2 separate regions of the Homo sapiens genome follow, and region 1 is linked to region 2. The links come from fine-mapping of genetic effects on gene expression. A gene starts in region 2. The other region holds a variant in brackets. All regions are shown on one strand. Distances are between the middles of the regions.

Region 1 (4,398 bases), 25 kb before region 2:
TAGGGGCCTAGAACTCCCAAGAGTATATGCCCTTTGTCTTCAGCTAGCAGGGTACATAGGGAAGGACCATCAGGTCGGGGAAGGGCTAGAAGTGTCTGAGTTCAGACTGTCTTTGGGCAGGTCTTGGCTGCGGCTGCTTTGGGGGATGGGAGTGTGGTTCCCAAGTCAATGGAGTAATGTTCCCAGGAGGATTATGTCTGCCTCTGCTGTGTCATGCCGGTTGTCAGGGAAGTGGGAGAAAGCTGGCAGTCACAGGCCTCACCCAGCTCCCATGCAACCCAAAAGGCTGGTCTCACTCCCACCTTTCCCCCGACTCCCAACAGCACCAAGTCTGTTTCCAGCAGTGGGCGAGCAGGGCTGAGAACTTGCTGCAGGCTACCAGTCTCCCAGCTGCAAAAGCAAGCAGGGCTTTCGTGTCTGCCTGCTTTTGGAGTCTGCACACCAGAATCACTCCCTCCCCGGAGTTCTGGCCAGGAGATTTTGCATTCTGTTGGAATTGTTACACAGTTCAGCTGGAGGTTTCCTTTTCCCTGTGGTCTTTTCCCAGTTCCTCTGGCAGCCCTCCCCAAGGACTCCTGTGAGGCAAGGCAGAAATGGCTTCCCCGGAGACCCAGAGAGCCCACAGGGCTTATCCCGCTGCTTCCTCTACCCCTGTATTTCACTCAGCTCTCTAAATTGACTCAGCTGCAGTTAATGTCAGAATCTCCTCCTGTGATCTAGACCTTCAGGTTCCCCTGTGAGGGTTGTCTCACGCAAGTCTGTGTGAAGAGACCACCAAACAGGCTTTGTGTGAGCAACAAGGCTGTTTATTTCACCGGGGTGCAGGTGGGCTGAGTCCGAAGGAGAGTCAGCAAGGGTGGTGGGATTATCATTAGTTCTTATAGGTTTTGGGATAGGCGGTGGAGTTAAGAGCAATGTTTTGGGAGCAGGGGGTGGATCTCACAAAGTACATTCTCAAGGGTGGGGAGAATTACAAAGAAATTTCTTAAGAGTGGGGGAGATTATAAAGAACATTGATCAGTTAGGGTGGGGCAGAAACAAATCACAATGGTGGAATGTCATCAGTTAAGCTATTTTCACTTCTGTGGAACTTCAGTTGCTTCAGGACATCTGGATGTATATATGCAGGTTACTGGGGATATGATGGCTTAGCTTGGGCTCAGAGGCCTGACATTCCTGTCTTCTTATATTAATAAGAAAAATAAAACAAAATAGTGGTAAAGTGTTAGGGCGGTGAAAATTTTTGGGGGTGGTATGGAGAGATAATGGGTGATGTTTCTCAGGGCTGCTTCGAGCGGGATTGGGGTGGCGTGGGAACTTACAGGGGGAGATATTCAACTGAAGAAGGATTTTGGGGTAAGGAGTGATATTGTGGGGTTGTTAGAAGGAGCATTGTTATTCTCTTATTTGGAAGACACAAGGTCCGAATAAAAGAAGGAGAAAAACAGGTATGAAAGGACTAAGAATTGGGAGTACCCAGGACAACCAATTACAGAGTGTCAAAGGGGGTTCGGCATAATTATTTGCTTGGTTGGCATGTTTTTGGGCTCTATCCTTGAGTTTTTTTATGTTGTCATAGACCAGGCCAGATTGATTTAGGTAAAAACAACCTTCTTCATTTAAAAATATACAGAGTCCCCCCTACCTTTTTTTTTTTTTTTTTTTTTTTTTAGCAGTGAGTAAGTTAGGGCCTCCTCGAATTTGGAGGAAAGAGAAATGCAAAGCCAGCAATTGTTTGTTAAAGAAGGATTAGAAAGGGCTAGGAGAGAGTGACTGAGATTGATAGTGTGGTGGAGATAGCTGGGGAGAGGTAGAGGGTGGCATAAGAATGGGAACGAGAATAAGAGTAAGTATAAAAGTAAAGAATAGGACTTCATCAGGGTGAAAGTATTGGAGGGTACTTTATCACTGAAGATCTTCTATCCACTTCTAGATAGACTTAAGGGTGGCGATTTGAGGTAAAACCAGGAGCCACTAAATACCAAGAGCCTCAGAAACTGAGGTGGGAAGGCCAAACCGAGGAATTATGTCTGACAGAAGGGAGGAAATGACCATGGTGGCCTTCTCAGACCCTGTGAGAAAGGCCTCTACCCACCCAGTGAAAGTGTCTACCCATACCAAGAGGTATTTTAATTTCCTGACTCGAGGCATGTTGAGTAAAGTCAATTTGCCAGTCCTGGGTGGGGGCAAATCCCCAAGCTTGATGTGTAGGGAAGAGAGGGGGCCTGAACAATCCCTGAGTAGTAGAATAGCAGATGGAACACTGAGAAGTGATTTCCTTGAGGATAGATTTCCACGATGGAAAGGAAATGAGAGGTTCTAAGAGGCGGACCAGCGGCTTGTAACCTACATGGAAGAGGTTATGAAATGACAGAATAGAATGGGCCTGTGAGGCTGGAAGGAGATATTTTCCTTGGTACAAGAACCATTTGCTTTGTGTGGGAAGAGATTGATAGGTGGAAGTTTCAGTTGGGGAGTAGGTGGGAGTGACTAGATGAGGAGAAAAACTGCCGTGAGGGATAGAAGTTGGAACGCTAGCTGCTTTTTTAGCTACCTTATGAGCATAAGCATTGTCCTGAGTGATGGGATCTGATGCCTTTTGATGGCCTTTGCAGTGAATAATTCTAGCTGTCTTTGGAAGTAAAGCAGCCTTGAGAAGAGTTTTTATTAAAGAGGCATTAATGATGGAGGACCCTTGTGTAGTGAGGAAAACTTTCAGCTCATAAA[G/A]CAGCATGGTGGTGCAGGATATGGGGTCAGCATAAATATTGATGAGTAGTCCCTTTACAAGAGTGAGGACCCGAATTAAGGCAATGAGTTTGACTTGCTGAGAGGTAGTGGAGGGGGGCAGAGCAGTAGCCTCAATGATAGATGTGGAAGATACTATAGCATAGCCTGCCTTTGCTGGTGAGTGGTGATTAGGCTTGATGGAACTGCCATCAATAAGCCAAGTGTGATCAGGGTAACGAACACGAAAGAAGGAAATAAGGAGAAATGGAGTGAATGTCAGGTGGATCAGAGAGATACAGTCATGGGGGTCAGGTGTGGTATCCAGAATAATGTGGAAGGCCAGATTGAAGTCCAGGCCAGGAACAATGGTAATTGTGGGAGACTCAACAAAGAGTGAGTATAGCTGAAGGAATTGGGGAGCAGAAAGTATATGTGTCAGGTGTGAGGAAGAAAATAGATTTTGAAAGTTATGAGAGCTGTAGAGAGTGAGTTGAGCACGGTTTGTGATTTGGAGGGCCTCCAAAAGTATTAAGGCAGTGGCAGCTGCCACACGCAGACATGAGGGCTAGGCTAAAACAGTAAGGTCAAGTTGTTTGGACAGAAAGCCTACAGGGAGCGGTCCTGGCTCTTGTGTAAGAACTCCGACCGCACAGCCCTGCACTTCAGCTGTGTGTAATGAAAACGGAGTGATGAGTTAGGGAGAGCCAGTGTGGGAGCAACTTTTAGGGCTGTTTTTTAAGGAATGGAAAGGGGAGTGGGGAAAGGATTTAGGATCTGTGTGGTCAACTAGGTTTGCTTTTGTGAGTTTATATAATGGTTCAGTCAGGATGGTAAAACTAGGTATCCAAACGCGGAAGTACCTAACCATGCCCAGGAAGGAGAGGAGTTGTTTTGTAGAAGGGGTTGGGGTTTGGGAGATTAGCCGGACACAATCAGCAGGGAGAGCACGTGTGTTTTCATGCAGAATTATGTTGAGATAGGTAATGGATGAGGAAGAAATTTGGGCTTGACTGAAGTAATGGGGGCTGTCCGTGAAGCCTTGCAGCAGTACAGCCCAGGTAATTTGCTGAGCCTGATGGGTGTCAGGGTCAGTCCAAGTGAAAGCAAAAAGAGGCTGGGATGAAGGGTGCAAAGGAATACTAAAGAAAGCATGTTTGAGATCCAGAACAGAATAATGGGTTATGGAGGGGTTGTGGAGGGAGGTATTGAGGATAGGAGAGTATATGGCTTTGGCACCATGGGGTGATAGGCAAGACAATTTGGTTGTTAAGGTGCAGATCCTGTACTAATCTGTAAGGCTTGTCCGGTTTTTGGACAGGTAAAATGGGGGAATTGTAAGGAGAGTTTATAGGCTTTAAAAGGCCATGCTGTAATAGGCAAGTGATAACAGGCTTTAATCCTTTTAAAGTGTGCTGTGGGATGGGATATTGGCATTGAGTGGGGTAAGGGTGATTAGGTTTTAATGGGACGGTAAGGGGTGCATCATCTGTCACCAAGGAGGGAGTAGAGGTATCCTGTACTTGTGGATTAAGGTGGGGAGATATAAGGAGAGGATGTGAAGGAGGCTTTGAATTGGGGCAAAAGATGGCAATTGAGGTGTGGCTGTAGCCCAGGAATAATCAGGGAAGCAGATAATTTGGTTAAAATGTCTCAGCCTAATAAGGGAACTGG
Region 2 (4,398 bases):
GATGTTAGCAATTACAATTATTAATAGTATGTCCAGGAGCCAACTCTTCATCTTCAGATCTCTAACACTTTGCAGAATACCAGATTTGAAGCTGAGTTAAATTCAGACTGTTAGTACATGTCTCAGCTTTAGAATGTAGGTGTCCAAAAAGACTTCCCCTCCACCTGTATCATTTGCCTTTTAAACAGAATCTGAGTCAATATATTAAGTTAGTCCTGTTCTGGCCATGGTCCTGTCCTTTAGTATCTTCTTGTAAAAAATAAAAATAAGAAGAAATGAGGTTCAACTAAATAACCTCGAGAGTTCATATTCCCTCTAAAATTTCAAGGTAAAACTAAAGTAATTCTTTCTCAAGTTGCAGCAGAAGGAGTTTTTGTATTTTCTAACTGGTCTGATAAGCACAAAGAAGTCGTTTTTTTTACTTAGAAATGCCATTTTACAGGAGGCTGAGGTGGTGGGATCACTTGGGCCAGAGCTCAAGATCAGCCTGGGAAACAGTTAGATACCTGCCCCCAGCACCCAAATTAAAAGTACAAAAAATCTGGGTGCGGTCGTGAATTCCTGTAATCCCAGCTACTTGGGAGTGGAGGTGGAAGGACTGCTTGAGCTCAGGAGTTGGAGACTGGGCAACAGAGCAAGACTCATCTCAAAAAAAAAAAAAAAAAAGAGAAATGTCACCACTTTAAACTGGTTCCCATCAACCTTTTTGATACAAAGAAATTTTACTTTTGTTAAACTATTTTAGACCACTGTATCAGTTATTATATGTGACTAGGTAGCATGATAACCTATAATTTATGCCTTGAAATAATTTTGACTCATTTTCTTCCCACATCTGTATTTATGAGCCGGGGCAGCTGTGGGGTGGTTCTTTGTGTGGGATTAAGAGACACTGCAGTTCTTGAAATAAACCAGATGTTTGAATTTTCAAAGGAAAAGTTCACACCTAGTGAAGTATTTATTTACAAGCTCCACAACAAAACAAGAGATTATAAGAAAACTTTCAAGGGACATGGGTCACAGAAACCAACAGGAACACCACAGCTTTCCCAACTTCATGGCCCCGGGGGATGTTACAAAAGACACAGAAACGCCGATCTTGTGCTGACTGTAAACATTTGTCAACTAGTGTTACAATGACTAAGAAATTACAAAAGAGTTACAATCTGATGAAGAGCGATTCCTGCTTTGACTTTATTTGGTTTCTATCCACTTTTCCAACATACCTTATAAAATACATGCAAAAAACTGGTTTTAGAAAGCGTTCCCTAAAATTAGTGTGTACGGAAACTTCAGGTATACTTCTGCTTTCCTCCGCAAAACCACCCCTTTTTAAAAATCGAAAGTGAAATTAGTTTTTTTTTCTGTTAGTGACTAATCATTGGAGACAACCATGTTTAGTATTTGAGCATTGGTTAAATGCTAAAGAAAAATCGCCGTTAAAGCAGTTTTCTTTTTCACTGTCTTTTTCTTTTCGCGGGGAACCCAGCTGTTCCTGCGAGGGCCACCTCCTCAGGAAGACCCCGCAGCTCTCCCGCGGCGCTTCTGCAGGAGGCAGCGACAGTTTCGAGAACCCGGGCCTTCCCCTCCCAGTGCCTCCCGGGGTTCCGGCGTTTCAGGCGCTGCTGTTTTCCGGGAAGGGCAGGCGCGCTGGGCCTTGGGGAGCTGCGCTCGGCGGGCGGACGCGGGTGAGTGGGGAGTCCCTTCCCCGGCTGCCACTCCCGCCGCTGGCAGTCCCGGGCTGGAGAGCCGGGGGTGGAAAGGGAGGTGGGAGCCCTCAGCGCCGACGGAAGTGGGACAGCGCCGGAGTTGAGACCCTGCTCCCCGGGAGCTGCCCGCAGCCGAGTCGCGGAGGCCACGCCGCCTTCGAGGGGGCGCACCTGCTCCTGGGCCCGCTGTGCAGTCTCTGGGCCGTCAGGGCTTCGAGCCTTGTCACTTGTTTGCTTTGCTTCATTGAGGAAATTGAAACATAAAGTTATTTGTGTTTCCTCGCTGTTTTCTCTCTTTTTTTTTTTTTTTTTTTTTTTTGAGACGGAGTCTCGCTCTGTCGCTCAGGCTGGAGTGCAGTGGCGCGATCTCGGCTCACTGCAAGCTCCGCCTCCCGGGTTCACGCCATTCTCCAGCCTCAGCCTCCCGAGTAGAGTAGCTGGGACTACAGGCGCCCGCCACCACGCCTGGCTAATTTTTTTTTTTGTATTTTTAGTAGAGACGGGGTTTCACCGTGTTAACCAGGATGGATACGATCTCCTGACCTCGTGATCCGCACGCCTCGGCCTCCCAAAGTGCTGGGATTACAGGCGTGAGCCACCGCGCCCGGCCCTCGCTGTTTTCTCCGAGTGTCTCTGGAGATAGTCCTTAGGAAAACGGATTTCTTAAGAAAACGATTCTTGGTAGGGGCAGTGTTGTGCAGTCATGGCTGGCGTGTCAGAATAGGCAAGGTTTTTCTTGAAGGAGACATCCGAAGGAGAATACTGTGTTTCCAGTCTGTACAACAGGCAGACGTTCTATTGCCTTTCTTTTTGCTGCCACGCATGCATATAGGAAGATTCGATTCTACACGGCCTGGCACCGCAGTTATATGATTGTATTACGGAAATACGGTGATGTTGATTTGTATCAGTTTTTTTAATTCGCTGCCATAACAAATTACATGGCTTTAGTGGCTTAAACACATAGGAACGCGCGCGCGCGCGCACACACACACACACACACACACTCACATACACAATTTACTATCTTAGGATTCTGTAGCAGTCCTACTGAGGTCTCACTGGGTTAAAATCAAAGTGTTGGCAGGGTTGCCTTCCTTTCTGGAAGCTCTTGGGGTGAATCCTCTTTCCATCTTCCGGAGGCCACCTACCTTATTTGGCTCAGCAGCCCTTCCTCCATCTTCAGGGCCAGCAACATTGCGCCTCTGAAAGTTCTTCCGGGGTCACATTTCACTCTTGACTCTTCTTCTGTCTTCCGCTTTCACTTTTAAGTAGCCTCATGATTACACTGGGCTCCCACAGATAATCCAGGATGCTCTCCATATTTAAAAGCAAGCTGATTAGCAACCTTAATTCAATCTGCAGCCTTAATTCTCCTTTGCAATATAAACTAACATAATCACAGATTCTTGGGATTAAGATGTGGACATCTTTGAGGGAGCCATTGTTTTGCCTACTACATGATTGCATAAAAGGAATGACCATACATCCCACTCATGCATAGAGCAAAAGTATCCAGATGCAAAAGATGCCAAAAGGGTTCTGGTGGTGTTAGATAGTAGACCATTTATGCTGAGAGCCTTTATTACAGGCTCTTGGAATATTGGCATTGTCACAATAATAAAAATAAAAAGCAATTAAATAACATTGCAGTTTCTGTCTTCTGAAATGTAATAAGAGGACTTCATATACATGTGATGTCCTGAGTACAACAAATACTTAAGTCAAGATACCACATAATTCTCTAAATGGAGTGTTTTCAGTGTGTAAGCTTATACTGAGAAAGTGCTCTGAATGTCTGCAGGGAGGAGTAGACATGGTCCCAGCCCTCAACATGTTTACTGATGTGTCACGGAAAATGACATAGGTACACACGTAATTAAAGCGCCGCAAAGGAGATAAAGGAGGGGGAGTAACATCCTTTGGGGGAATCAGAAAAGGCTTCGGGAGCTTGGGGAAAATTTGGAATGGACCTTGAAGAACAGTAAGATTTCATTAGATGGAGATTAAGTTTGGGAGAGGAGGAAGGATGTGACAGTTTGAGGGACAGAGGAAAGAAAAGGAACTATCCAAGTGTTCAGTGTGGTTAGGGAACTGGGTTGAGGAATTGACTAAATAGGACGGGAAAGTGAGTTGGAGTTAGAATGTATCAGACCATGGCTGACCATTAAGAAGATTTTGCAGTTGTTGATACAATAGCGATATATATGTATATATGTATGCGTGTGTGTGTGTGTGTGTGTATGTGTGTGAGAGAGAGAGAGAGAGATGTGGTTTAAATATATATATACTTATATATATATATCGTCTCAAGGCATCTCAAACTTACAGAAAAGTTGCAAGTACAGTAAAACAACTTTTCCTTTTCCTAAATTATTTAAGAATAAATTTCCAATCTGGTGACCTATCATCTTTCATTATATACTTGAGTATATATTTCCTACAAAAAAGATGTGCTCCGACATAACCACAATACAGTCATCAAAATCAGGAATGTGGAGTGCTACGTTACTACAATTTAATAATCAGATCCAATGTGAATTTCACCAGTTGTCCTGATAGTGTCTTGGATAGTGTAGGGGTCAAGGGAAAACTTCCTCTTTGCTCTCTGAAGGGCAAAGGCAGATTAAAAAGGAGAAATGGCATACAAATTTATTAATGTGCACAGGGGAAAAAAATCACATAGTGA

Direction of the effects. Positions count from the first base shown, and alleles are read on the strand shown. Sizes are in standard deviations (SD) of each study's normalised expression.
In carriers of allele G in region 1, the expression in tibial artery of the gene that starts at base 1,613 in region 2 tends to be higher than with A alone (moderate effect, 0.41 SD a copy in GTEx).

The links. PIP is the estimated chance that this variant, and not a neighbour inherited with it, causes the effect.
Region 1: its variant is fine-mapped to the expression of NMI in tibial artery (GTEx, PIP 0.99).

The regions. Positions count from the first base shown.
Region 1 is chr2:151,311,574-151,315,971 of GRCh38, reverse strand. No RefSeq gene overlaps it. Among named protein-coding and RNA genes, the nearest start is that of NMI, 24 kb to the right of the region's middle. The variant G/A (reference allele first, on the strand shown) is at 2,728.
Region 2 is chr2:151,286,883-151,291,280 of GRCh38, reverse strand. NMI (N-myc and STAT interactor) reads left to right here and starts at 1,613. Exons shown (of 8, transcript NM_004688.3): 1 at 1,613-1,688. RefSeq lists enhancers at 1,025-1,444, 1,505-1,584, 1,975-2,024, 2,045-2,094, 2,895-3,064 and a silencer at 1,645-1,844.